2 linked regions of the Homo sapiens genome follow. The protein of the gene in region 1 interacts with the protein of each later gene in a pairwise test. Each region holds a gene or a part of one and is shown on either strand. Other genes may lie near its edges.

Region 1 (7,564 bases):
CTCGGCCCAGGATCCTCAGGGCCCAGTACTGGCCAGAGGCAAGCCCACTCTTCAGGAACCTGGCACTGGGAACCCAGACACCGTTCCTGATGGGAGGGTCCCACATTTGCTCACACAATTTGATGACTATGGCTGTCTGTTTAGCCTGCCCTCTGGTCTCCCTAGTCTTCTGGGAATGGGAACCCTGGAGATATTAGGGTTAGGAAGAGCAGTCTGTCAAAGGAAAAAAGGGGGGAGGGGCTCTGTTCACTACCTATTTTAAGCCACCGAGTGTTGTCTGACTGGTCATTCCCAGTGCGAGAAATCTCTCTCATTGGATGGAAAATGGCTTTGCTCTCATTACAAACCCAGCTTCCCTGGAGTTTGCAAAGAGGGCTCTGGGTTGGCAAAATGCTCATTTTTATAGGCAGGCAACTAAGGTAGGCAAGGAAGGGAGATAAGTAGGCGGCAGGGCCCAGAGAAAGAGAGAATGAGAGAATTAAACCCAGCTTGAAAAGTGTTTCCCAGACCTTCATCACAATCTCATGCATCACGAAAGCCCAGAGGGGCACTAGGGAACCTTAGGACCTTGACTTAGGTAAAGGCATCCCTGATCCCAACCCTAGAAACAACCAACAATCCCTCTTTTTGCACAAATATGCCCACAAGCTCCCAGTGGTATCTGCTGTTCAGTGGCATCCGACTCAAGTGATGTGGAAGGGGGCAGGGTCCCTCTCCCTGACTGGCAGTCATACCTTGTTTGGGGACCCACGAGTGGCCCATGAGAGACCAAGCAGATGCTGGAGCTTGGGTCTCTGGGGTATGGATGGGCCACTGGACAAGCATGGGACACAGGACAGCTGCTCATCAGTCAGAACACCAGGCATCTTCACCCATCACTATGAGCAAGGTCATTCAGCCCTGCCGCTCTGGATGCCAGCTGCCCAGGGTGCCTGCTCTTGGCCCACCACTCAGCATGAGGAGCTGAGCTCAGGGTTACGGTGGGTGCAGGGGGTTTTCATCCCGGCCTGAGGCCCCAGTGACTTCGGTCCTCCAGGGACCCGGCCGCAGCTTCCCAGGGCACCAGAAAGCAGACATAAATGCCTGCTGTCAGCACCCAAGGAGCTGGCCCGTTGCTAAGAGGTCTGTCTCTCTTCACGGCCCTGCTCTGCAGGCTGAATGACCCGGAGCTGCCTCTAGGATGGCCATCCTGACTCTGCAGCCTTGAAGGGGGAGGAGGAATATGTGGCTTAAGGTGGCAGAGCCCTATCCTGGCTGCCGGCAGGGGTAGGCCAGGCTCAGAACACCTTTTCATTCTGTCTCCAATGCAGCCCAGACCCGAGAAGACCAGTGACTGAACCCAGAGGAAAGTTCCCCCAGCGCGGTGCAGGAGGGGGCCTGGGGGTGTCTCGGAGCCTAGAGGCGCCCTGCCTCTCTTGGAGCTCCCAGCGCAAGGCAGGAAAGTTAACTCCGGCTGGGAGGCAGGGTCAGGAGGAGGCATGCCTGCCACCGCGCAGGGCACCCACAGGATCATCGCTGTGGCCCCTTACCTGAAGTCACTGTAGGGGTGGATAATCCAAAATCCGGCCGACTTGACCCTCTCCTGTTCGCGCTCCACGGCTTTCTGGCTGCCGAACATCCTTAGGGAGAATTTGTTGACCCCGGGTTGGAGCATGGCCCCGAACTGGCGCTGCATGAAGCCGGCCTGGCCCAGGCGCACCTCGGCCTCCGGGAGGATCTGGTCGCCGGCAGCCGCGCCTCCCTCCACTTTGATAGCGGTGTCCACCGAGGGCTGCTCGCAGGAGGCGGAGGCCGGCTGCGGTGGCTGCTGGGGCGGCGGCGGCGAGGCTGCGGGCTGCGCCGAGGCGCCGGGGCGCTCGGGCTCGGCCGCCAGGCCTGGGGGCGTCCTGTCCTCGCCGGGGGACGCGTCGCCCTCGGCGATGAGCCGCCGCTCCTCCGCGGAGTCATGCAGGTGTCCGTGACTGCTGCCGCTCCCCGTGCCGCCGCTGCCGCCGCCCCGGCTGCCCAGCGAGGCCAGGCTCCCGCGGAAGCGCCTGCAGTCGCCGTTCGTGCTGGACTTGCCCGCGCCGCGGGCCGGCCCTTCGCTGTCCGCTGCCCCGAGGGCCGAGCTCCGGGACTCCGTGCCACCCGCGGCCGCCGAGGGGGAGGGCGAGGGCAGTGGCCGCAGCCGGATGCTCCTGCGGCTGGGGTCTTGGCGGCCCCCGGCCCCCTCCTCCTCGGCGTCCTCTTCCTCGTCCATGATCCACGCCTTGGCCCCCACCTGCTGCGGGAGGCTGTAGAGCCGCTTGCGCATGGACGGCGGCAGCTTGTCCATGGCGCCAGGGGCCGGGGTCGGACCGGGCCGGGGGCAGGAGCGCGGCGCCGCGGACGGGCTCCAGGTCCGCCCGCCGGTCAGTCCGCCCGTGGGGACGCGTCCTTTGCCGCCGGCGTGGGGGCAGCCTCAGGCGCCCATGCTTGGGCAGGCTGCGCGCCGCGGGGAGGATCCTAGTCCCGCTCCGAGTCCCCGGGCTCGCCGCGCTACACCTCCTCCCGGGCCCGGCTGGGCGCGGGGACCCCGCGCTCCCTTCTTGCCTCCCTCCCTCCCTCTGGCGTTCAGGGGCGCGGCGCGCCGCCCGGCTCCAGGCGCCCCGCCCCCGCGGGGAACAATGGGCGCCGGCCGGAGAGGCTCTGCGGCCGCGGCGCTCAGGGAACCGCTCCGGAGTGCAGAGCGCACGGCCCGCGCGGGTCCCGGGCGTGCGTCCCGCGGGAGGGCTGGCTGTCCGTCTGTCTCGCCGCCCGGGCTTTGTGGCTGGCCACCCGCGAGCTCGCCTCGCCTCCTCTGCCCCGGCCCGTCCGGCCCGTCCCGGGGCTCCCGCCGCAACCGAGCGGAGCCCAGCGACCCGCCGGGCTTACATCAGCGGCCGCCTCCCCCGAAGCGCCCTCCGGCAGCGCTCGGGCTCCCGCGCCCCGGAATATTCATGAAGCCGCCGCAGCTCGCGGGTTGCCATAGGAGCGGCTCCAGCAGCCGGGCCTGCCTACCTGGGCTTCTTAAAGGGGCAGCGGCGCACGGGCCGGGGGCTGGAAAGGGGCGGGGGGCGGGCCTGGCAAGGGGCCCAGGTTAGACCCTCGCTAGACCTTCGGGGCCGGGGTGAGAGGTATCCACACTGCTGCGCCCTTAAATCTCTTTCCTGGGCTAAGCTGGGAGTGCGCCCCAAGTCTGAAGCTCCGGCTTCAGTTGCGAATTCCCCATCCTAAGATTGAAGGGTGGGGGGTGGCTTCCCAATTTCTCCATCACCAAGCTCTGGGCTCGCCTTTCCCTGGCATTTTTGCCCCTCAGCTGGGTCTCCGACTTTCCTCTTGGGAGGCGACCGGGTTCGTCTGGATGCAGAGTCCCGGCCTTCCCGCAACCCTCCTGGAGAGGGGGCTTCCGGAAATGCGCCGCGTCGGGGAGGCTCCCACGGTTTTCCTGTGACATGGGCAGGGTGCGAACCCCGCGCCAGTCTTTCCCCTGCAAAGCCTCGCAGCAGCCAGGCAAGGAGGGCGTGGGGAAACAGGGAGACACGCACAGGGCGCGCGGGTGGGACCCAGCCCTTCGAGGTAAGACTTCGAGGAAATGCGCCGGCAACAGTGACGGATGCGAGATCCGAACGCCGACCTCCGCACGCGCCTCTCCCTCGGTAGTTCCGAGAAAGGGACAAGCCGGCTGCAGCGGGGAGCGGTTGGGCCGGTTCCTCGGACGCCCCAGCACTCTGGAACTGGCTTTGGAGCCCCTTCTCCCTGTGTTCCCATCCACATTATGACACCTACTATGTGGACCCACGCTGGGTGAGTTCCTGTTCCACCCAGTCCCCTACCTGCACCCCCAAGCAGCTGCACAGCCCCCACTCCCTTCCAGTCTGCAGCCCAGCCCCCTTCCCCCCAACCCCCGCCAAGGATCCAACTGTGTGTCCTCTCTCCCAGTCTCTCCCAGTGTACAGTGTCCGGGCTTATGGACAGATTTCACTAGCTCAGCCTAAGGTATAGCCCTACCCCCTCCAACACCATGGACAGCCTGATACCCCAGATTAGCTCAGAAATGGATAGGGGGACAGATTGGGCATTAAGGGGAGGGGAGTTGTCCAGAGAAGGCTGGAGCCGAGGTTAATGCTGGAGCGGACACACAGCAAAGTCTCACAGGAGGGAGGCAAAAAGGTCCCCTGGCTCTGCCATCTCTCTGAGGAATAACATCAAGTTTTTCTTCAAATGATTTTTTTACTCTCATTCTTAGCCCAATGTGACCACTTTCGCCTCCTCCATCCAGAGTAGGAATTTGGAGAGCAGGATGCGGGGCGGGCAGCCTAGCAGGGGCTCTTCTGCTCTACCCACTGGACCACAGGACCTCCCACAGTGAGAGGAATGACTAGGGTGATGACATCACTGGTAGCTGGCATTTTTACTTTTGAGCAGCTCTGAGCTGACAGTTCTCTGCACAGATGCTGGAAGCCTAATCCCTGAGTGTCCTTGGGTCTCCTTGAGAAGAAGTGTTCTTAAAGAGCTGTGAGCCCAGCCTGCCCTGGTCTACCAGCCACAGGAGGGAAGACCTCCATTTAACACACTTCTTTGAGCTTCTTTGTCTAGCTGGGAGTTAGTCTGCCTTAACCCCGCTCAGGAAGTCAGCCCATATAGGCTTCCCCATGACCTATGGTAGAGACATCTCCTCCTCTGGGAACCCTTTCCTAATCACCAAAACCTTGGTCATGTCCCTGCCTTTGGTTCCCATGGCCCATTAGCTCCTGTGACCCTGAGCACTGATTACACAGTGCAGTCTGTGCCCTGAGGGTGGAGCAGGTCCACCTTATCTCAGGGACCTCTCCACCAACACAAGGGTGGACAGAAAGCAGATTAATAAGTTTCAACTCTACAAATGAGTGAGGGACCCTAGAAGTTAGCTAATGGCATTGGAGGGGATGCTTGGAGGAGATGGAGGATAAGACCAAAATTCTGCTTCCTGGGATACTGCTGCCACAGGCCGGCCAGGGGTCAGGATCTCTTAATTCCACCCTACCAGCACCTCACTCGCCCTCAATTTCATTAGTGGCACCCATTCACGACCATCTAGGACCAACTTTAGGTGCAGCAATGACTATTAGATAAATCAGGCCCTTGATAAACCCTGATGAGATCTGGCTTCTCCTGCCTCCTTTATGTGGAAACCCTAATGGAGGACACTGGTGGTGTGCCAACAGTCCAGGGGACAGAGGAGGAGCAGCCCCAGGTCTTGCCCTTGATGGGCTTCAAGTTGTGAGGAAGCTAGACTCATTCTCAGGAATAGGGCATGAAAATAGAGCAGGAAAACTGAAGACAGGAAAGAAATGTATATTAAATCATGTCCCCAACCATGAGAGATTTCAGAGGGAGCTATTGCTGGCCTTGGAGTAGCTAGGGAGGGTTTCCTGGAGGAGGGGGCCAGACTTGATGAGAGACATATATCTAACACTTTACAGTTTACACCTTTTTGTTGTTAAACCACATGAAATTTTGATTTTTGTGAGCCCAATATTGTCAAATTTTGGCAATTTCACGTGAGTCAACCTGACATTCTTACTCCCATTTGCAGGCAAGAGAACTAAAGCACAGAGAGGTCAAGAGGCTTGCCAAATGCCCCATAGCAAGAAAATGGTGAAGCTAGAATTCAAGGGCTCCACAGGGCAGGCTGTGCTCTACTGCCCATCTGCTCATGCAGGTGGGGTAGGGGGCAGGCACAGATGGAGGAAGGAGAAGGAGAGAGAAGGTAAAGAATGGGGAGAGAATAAATAGGACTCCCACATTCTGTAATCTCCCCATTGCTCCACCTGGGTCTCACACCCTCTCCTTTCCAGCACTGCCTAGAAGGCCTGGGGTCTGCTCTGGTTCCTTTGATAACATGGTAGCCAGGCCCTGGGGACCCCAGCAAGGGGAAGGCCCTGTCTCAGGACTGAAATATATGGAGAAGACCTGCTGCTCTCACCATGGGTGGGGGACTAGGGGACTTTGGAGACAAATGGGCTGCTGCAGTGCTGCAGCGGGCCTGGATATTCCTGGAATGCAAATGTAGAAAACATCTGAGTCTAAGAGAGAAGGGGACTGGGGAGGATGGGTTTCCTTCCCTGGAACGGACACTGAATATCAGTGAAAGTTAGAAGACCTGCTGGGAGTAGAAGTGGAGAATGTAGCTGATTGTATAAATCAACCTCAGACCTTATTTGTGGGGGACCTAGATGGGCAGAGGGGGATGGGAAATTCTGGAAGCTTATTTGCTTATGGGCAGAGGGCATTGTTCTTGCTTGGAGAGGCAGCTCTGGGGTAGGGCAGTGGCTCCCACAGCCTGCAATGCCAAAGTTTTGGCCAGTTCTGCTTGAAATGAGATGAAAACACACACACACACACACACACACACACACACACACACACACACACACACACAGAACAATGTAGGATATTTTAGGTTAAGGTTGCCAACTGTCCTTTCTTAGAAGGCTGTCTTTATTCTAAGGTTATATCCTTGCTACATTCTCTGTGTTAAAATGCCCTTTTATGAAATCATGGTGCTGGAAGATGCTGTTTTTTCAATGTCGTTGGCTAAATAAAAAGTTGGCACTGGGTTCTGTGTTTGTTCCGAAAAATCATTTTTGAAATGTTATTGATCTATAAGTTCCAAAAGTCTGGGAACCCCTGTTGTAAACAATAGAGCATGAAACTGAAAAACAAAAGCTGGAGAATTAAGTACTTCTCTGTCAGTTACTGCCTGTGTATGCCTCGATCTTCCTCGTGTGTAAAATGGGTTTAATGATATGCACCTCAAAAGTTATTGCTAAGACTACATGAGAAAATGAATGCACCTAGCATAGCATCTCATTTGTAGTAAGTTCTCAGTAAACACTGAATGATGAAATGATGGAATGAAACCTGCATTACCCAATGGAGAGGAAGGCTCCTGGCCTTTGGAATCCAATTTAGGTCATATCATCTTAAAACTTTCTGTTGGGATGAAAGGGATGTTTTATACAAGATTCCTTCCTTTGAACTCTCCATCCCTGACAAGCCCTGGCTGGGTCTCCAGAAGGCAGACTTCCTTCTCTCTGGGACAGGACCTTGCTGTGGCCCCAAGCTCTACAGCAAGCTTGTTCAACCCGCAGCCCACAGACCACATGCAGCCCAGGACAGCTTTGAATGCAGCCCAACACAAACTTGTAAACTTTCTTAAAACATTATGAGATTTTTTTGCGATTTTTTTAGCTCATCAGCTATTGTTAATGTTAGTATATTTTATGTGTGGCCCAAGACAATTCTTCTTCCTCCAGTGTGGCCCAGGGAAGCCAAAAGATTGGACACCCCTGCTATATAGGCAGCTGCTAACTCAGAGGGCCACATCGTTGACCCTGTGCTCAAAACCCTCTGAGAAGGCTGGGGGTGGTGGCAAGTGGTATCCATACATACATGCCACTTCATCTTTTTGCTCAGTGTAGATACAGTCCTGCACTTCTGCTCTGCCCCAAGGCAGGTCTGCTCTGTAGGGCTGGACAGGGATCAGGGACATATAGACTTCCTGCTGGGAGTCCTGACCTGG
Region 2 (4,907 bases), on another chromosome or scaffold:
AGAGGAAAACTAAATCAAGTTAAAAGAATACATTTTTAAAGCGACATTATAACTTTTTATTTTTTTTTCTTAAATAATGAGAACTTTTTAAGATTAGTTTTCTGCAAAACTTTAAATGTTAGTTTTAAAATATGTTTTGTTATACTGGGTACTTCTTAAATACTCTACTTCTCTGGTATGGATTATTTGTCCTTTGAAATGTTTGTTCAGGTTCGAGACCAGCCTGGGCAACATAGTGAGACCCTGTTTTTACAAAAAAATACAAAAGTTAGCTGGGTGTGGTGGCACACGTGCCTGTAGTCCCAGCTACTAGGGAGGCTGAGGTGGGAGGATCACTTGAGCCCGGGAGGTTGAGGCTGCAGTGAGCTGAGATTGCACCACTGCACTCCAGGCTGGGTGACAGAGAGAGACCATGTCTCAAAAGAAAAAGAAAAAGAAAAAGAAAAATGTTTGTTCTGTCTTAAGACTTCTAAATAGGTTAAAGGCCAGGAAAACAATAAATGTAAAGTAATCTTATGGTTTGTTTATTCATCTCTTCAGACTCCACACTCATGAATTAATATTACAGATAAATGCTCCTATGTCCGTCTGGTAAGCAAGTGATAGCTTTTGAGCCTCAGCTTCTACATAATACATCTGGGTTATTTATAAATTGAATTTGTCACACACAAATGATGTTTCATGAGAAAGAAGATTCAATGATTTGTAAATCTCTCCTTTCTATCCCCACAGCCACTGCCCAGACACTTTACTTCAAATTTGGCTTTATTTTCATCATTGATATTGATTAAAATGACATTCACTTGCCCGGAAAGTAAAAGAGGTCTTCAGCACAAAATATTGCTCCAACAAGCAAGCATAAATCACTGAGATTGAAATGTCATCTATCTTTATTGGCCAACCACATAATCTCCATGAAAATTCTCAACAGAGAGCAAGGAACTCACTTTCTTCTAAGCAAAGACAATTTGGATTTGCCTCGTGGCACTGGCATCTCTTCATGTCTGGACGTCAGATGTTAGCTTGGTGCCTTTCTCCCTTATCAGGGGGACATTTTGAACCCAGCCGCACCAATGTTCTCATGGATGGTGGCCTTCGATTCTTCTAGATTCAAGATTTGGCTCTTGTACTTTTCCTGCCAGTCCTCTACAATGTACTGGTGGTAGGGGTCATTGGAGTGTTCCCGTCTCTTGGATTTCACAGTGCTCACCAGGATGGCCACGATGATGAAAGAGAACATTCCAATCATCACCATGAGGTACAGGATGACATAGTAGAAGTTCTCAGCATCAACTTTGGCTTGGAGGGCCTCTTGCTCAGCTGTTGTGTTCTGGCGCCAATTGTCCATATAAGTAATAAAAATCCTTCGGAAGACGTCTTCCAGCGTCTGTGTGAAATTGGATAAAGTAGACATGCTTCCCTCCTGCTGCAATTTAAATAATAAAATAGGCGAACAAGGTTAGGAAAACGGATCTTTTCTGGATTTGGCTATGTAAAGGTGGGAGGGAGATGCCAGGGTATAAGTAATAGTATTTCTTCTTAACCTGGCTGGTGATTTAATGCATATTTTGTTAGTCTTTAAACTGACTGCGTACATTTTATTCACTTTTTTTACAATCCATGATTGTTACACAGTAAAAATTTAAATGGCAGAGAAAATTATATATATACACTTTGATATTTATATATGCATGTAAATAAATGTATGTGTACATATGAAAATGGAGAAAATATTAGAAGTACATAGATCAGAATGTTAACAGTGGGTGGTGTGCTTAAAGATATGTATTTTCTTCTTTATGCTTTTCTCATATTCCAAATTTTCATCAGCAGTCTTGCATTACTTTTGTTTTTTAAAAAATTGGTAACCTTACAAGAGCTAGAATAATGCCACATTCATAACAAGCACTCAACAAACGTCAGTGGAATGGACCAATGACTCATTTATGTTCTCTGTTTTTAGAGAATTGTGGGGCATTATGAGATAACATCAAGAGAAAAGATTGCAGGGGGCATTGACAGACTCTCCAATTTGTTCCATCCCCTATGTCTAAGTGGCACATTGTCCCAAGTATCCTAAAGGGAGGGGTGTGTACATCTATATTTGAAAGAAGCATTTTAGGTAAGTGATGCCAAGAAACAATCTGAGAGATTATTCCTATGTTTCAAATCCATCTCTCCTTTTCATCACCACTGGCACCGCCCAGCCTCCAGCATCTCTCACCTGGATAATACAATGCCAACAATGTAATACAACACAACCCTCCCCAGAGCCATCTCTTTGGGGTTATATGTGCCCCTCTCTGCCTTGAATAGCCATCAATGTGCCCTTTTTTTTTTCTTAAGACGGAATCTTGCTCTGTCGTCCAGGCTGGAGTGGGGTGGCACGATCTCTGCTCACTGAAACCTCCGCCTCCCCAGTTCAAGCAATTCTCATGCCTCAGCCTCCCAAGTAGCTGGGATTACAGGCACATGTCACCACGCCTGGCTAACTTTTGTATTTTTGGTAGAGACGGGGTTTCAACACATTGGCCAGGCTGGTCTCGAACTCCTGACTTCAGGTGATCCACCCGCCTCAGCCTCCCAAAGTGCTGGGATTACATGTGTCAGCCACCGTGCACAGCCAATGTGCCTTTTTGAAGAGGGAAATTATAGTGCAATTTGTTTGCTTTTAAAATGATGCGATGGTTGTTCTTAAAATCAAGTCCTAATTCCTTAACAGTATTTACCCCATTGGCTGAGCAGGCTCCTGACCACCTCCTCAGTTACCCTTTGCTCACTACAGTTCGGTCACACCTGACATCTTCCCTCCCTGTCAGTAAGCTCTCTTTCCTCGGGACATTATCACATCCTATTCTCTCAACCTAGAATGCCTTTGCCTTTCTCTTCCACCTGCTACCTCCTCGTTCTTTAGGTTCCAGCTAGTTGTCACTTCTGAGACTTCCCTGGTTCTACTCTAAATCACTTCCCACCACCACCACCATTTTCCTCCAACAGCATCTCCTTTTTCTTCAAAAGCACACATCACATATGCAGTCACTAAATGTGTGTGTATATATTCATATTACTTTTGTTTAAAAAAAATTGGTAACCTCACACCAGCTAGAATAATGCCATATTTATAACAAGCACTCAACAAATGTCAGTTAAATGGAGCAATGACTCATTTATATTCTGTTTTCAGAGAATTATATACGTGTGCTTTTTTATACATCTCTGTTTTTAGAGAATTGTGGGGCTTTAGACATAACATCAAGGCAAACGATTGCAAGGCAAAAATTTTTTGTTTTTTTGAGACGGAGTCTCGCTCTGTCACCCAGGCTGGAGTGCAGTGGCGCGATCTTGGCTCACTGCAACCTCTGCCTCCCAGGTTCAAGTGATTCTCCTGTCTCAGCCTCCCAAGTAGCTGGGACTACAGGCAACCGCCACTACGCCTGGCTAATGTTTTGTATTTTTAGTAGAGACGGGGTTTCGCCATGTTAGCCAGGATGGTCTCGATCTCGTGACCTCGTGATCCACCTGCCTCGGCCTCCCAAAGTGCTGAGATTACAGGTGTGAGCCACCGCTCCCGGCCAAGATTTTTTAATACATACATACATACATATATATAACATACATATATATAACATACATATATATATATATATATATATATATATATATTGTGTGTGTGTGTGTGTGTGTGTGTGTGTGTGATTATTGGTTTAGGGGCTCATCTTTTCCACTCGGCTGTCATGTCTGCCAACTTTGTCTAGCTCGGTATAGCAGATGTCTAACACATAGAAGGCACTCAATGGACATTTGATGCATGAATTAAAGTGCCAGGTACTATGCTAGGCGATGAAACTGCAGAGGTGACAGGAACTCTGTGAGAGGCTCAGTTGAATGGGAGAGACCAAATCAATGACAATGCAACGTGCAAAGAGTTGCAACAGGTATGGACAAAAAGATAAGGGGGCTCAGAAAATGGAGCTGAACACGGTTCATAGATGGGGCAAGTGGGTTTCAACACAGCTAGAAGGAGCACAGGCAGGAGGTAAACCTGTGACTAGCCACTAGTAAAAGCCCCAGGATCCCAGCAGTGGGTTTGCCTGCTGCCGTTCTAAAGACATGCCCGTCTCTTTAGCATGTGACTTTTCTTTCCTTCATGAAAAGAGAATCAGATCTCCCCATCTGGGAAAGGAATTTCAATCAGCTGAATAATCAAACCTACTAAACAAATAAACTTGCAGGCATTCTCCCACAGAACATCCCTCCCCAGGATTTTCCTCATTGAGAATTACCATCACCAAGATAATATACTCTTCTCTGTCTGATGTTTTAAGTTCTATTATTTAGAGAGCTCTAAGATCTTTGTCTCCCTCTCCTGGCCACACAGGCTAGTGGGTTGGAAGGAAACTTAACAAATAGATAAGATTGCCCCAGGGTATATACCAAGCATATTTCCTAAGCAATGTAACAGAGATGTGCTTTTTCCCCTTTAAAATGATATAGTCTGCTGTGAAAGTTAGCTGAGCTGGCTTTAATCCACTCAAGACTTTGCCACTGGCTCTTTTACCCTTTTATTTTCATTTTATTTTTTATTAACTCTTTTTTAAAATAAAAAAGTAGTGATGAGGTCTCACTATGTTGTTAAACTCCTAGGCTCAAGTGATCCCCCTGCTTCAGCCTCCCAAGGTGCTGGGATTACAGGTTTGAGCCACCATGCCAGACTTTTTTTTTTTTTTTTTTTTGAGATGGGGTCTGGCTCTGTGAGTATAGTCTTTTTCTCTTGTAGGAAGCCCAGCCGGTTGTTACCAATCCATAGTACTTTCCCTGACCTCCCCAGGTCTAGGCAGAGACCCTTTTTCTGCCCCTTCTGCAAATGACCATGTTAGTTTTGTTTTTTTCCTTTTTTTTTTTTTTTT

The links. The genes of interacting proteins can lie anywhere in the genome.
Region 2: the proteins of HCN4 (region 1) and KCNE2 interact in a two-hybrid assay, tested with the Homo sapiens proteins (one study listed by BioGRID).

Annotation. Positions count from the first base shown.
Region 1 is NC_000015.10:73,365,957-73,373,520, forward strand, and holds the start of HCN4 (potassium/sodium hyperpolarization-activated cyclic nucleotide-gated channel 4), read right to left. Parts: upstream 3,003-7,564; 5' UTR 2,315-3,002; coding exon 1,530-2,314; intron 1-1,529. UniProt on the Homo sapiens protein: Hyperpolarization-activated ion channel that are permeable to Na(+) and K(+) ions with very slow activation and inactivation. Exhibits higher selectivity for K(+) over Na(+) ions.
Region 2 is NC_000021.9:34,366,986-34,371,892, reverse strand, and holds the end of KCNE2 (potassium voltage-gated channel subfamily E member 2), read right to left. Parts: intron 1,723-4,907; exon of another isoform or gene 1,427-1,722; 5' UTR 1,415-1,426; coding exon 1,043-1,414; 3' UTR 512-1,042; downstream 1-511. UniProt on the Homo sapiens protein: Ancillary protein that functions as a regulatory subunit of the voltage-gated potassium (Kv) channel complex composed of pore-forming and potassium-conducting alpha subunits and of regulatory beta subunits.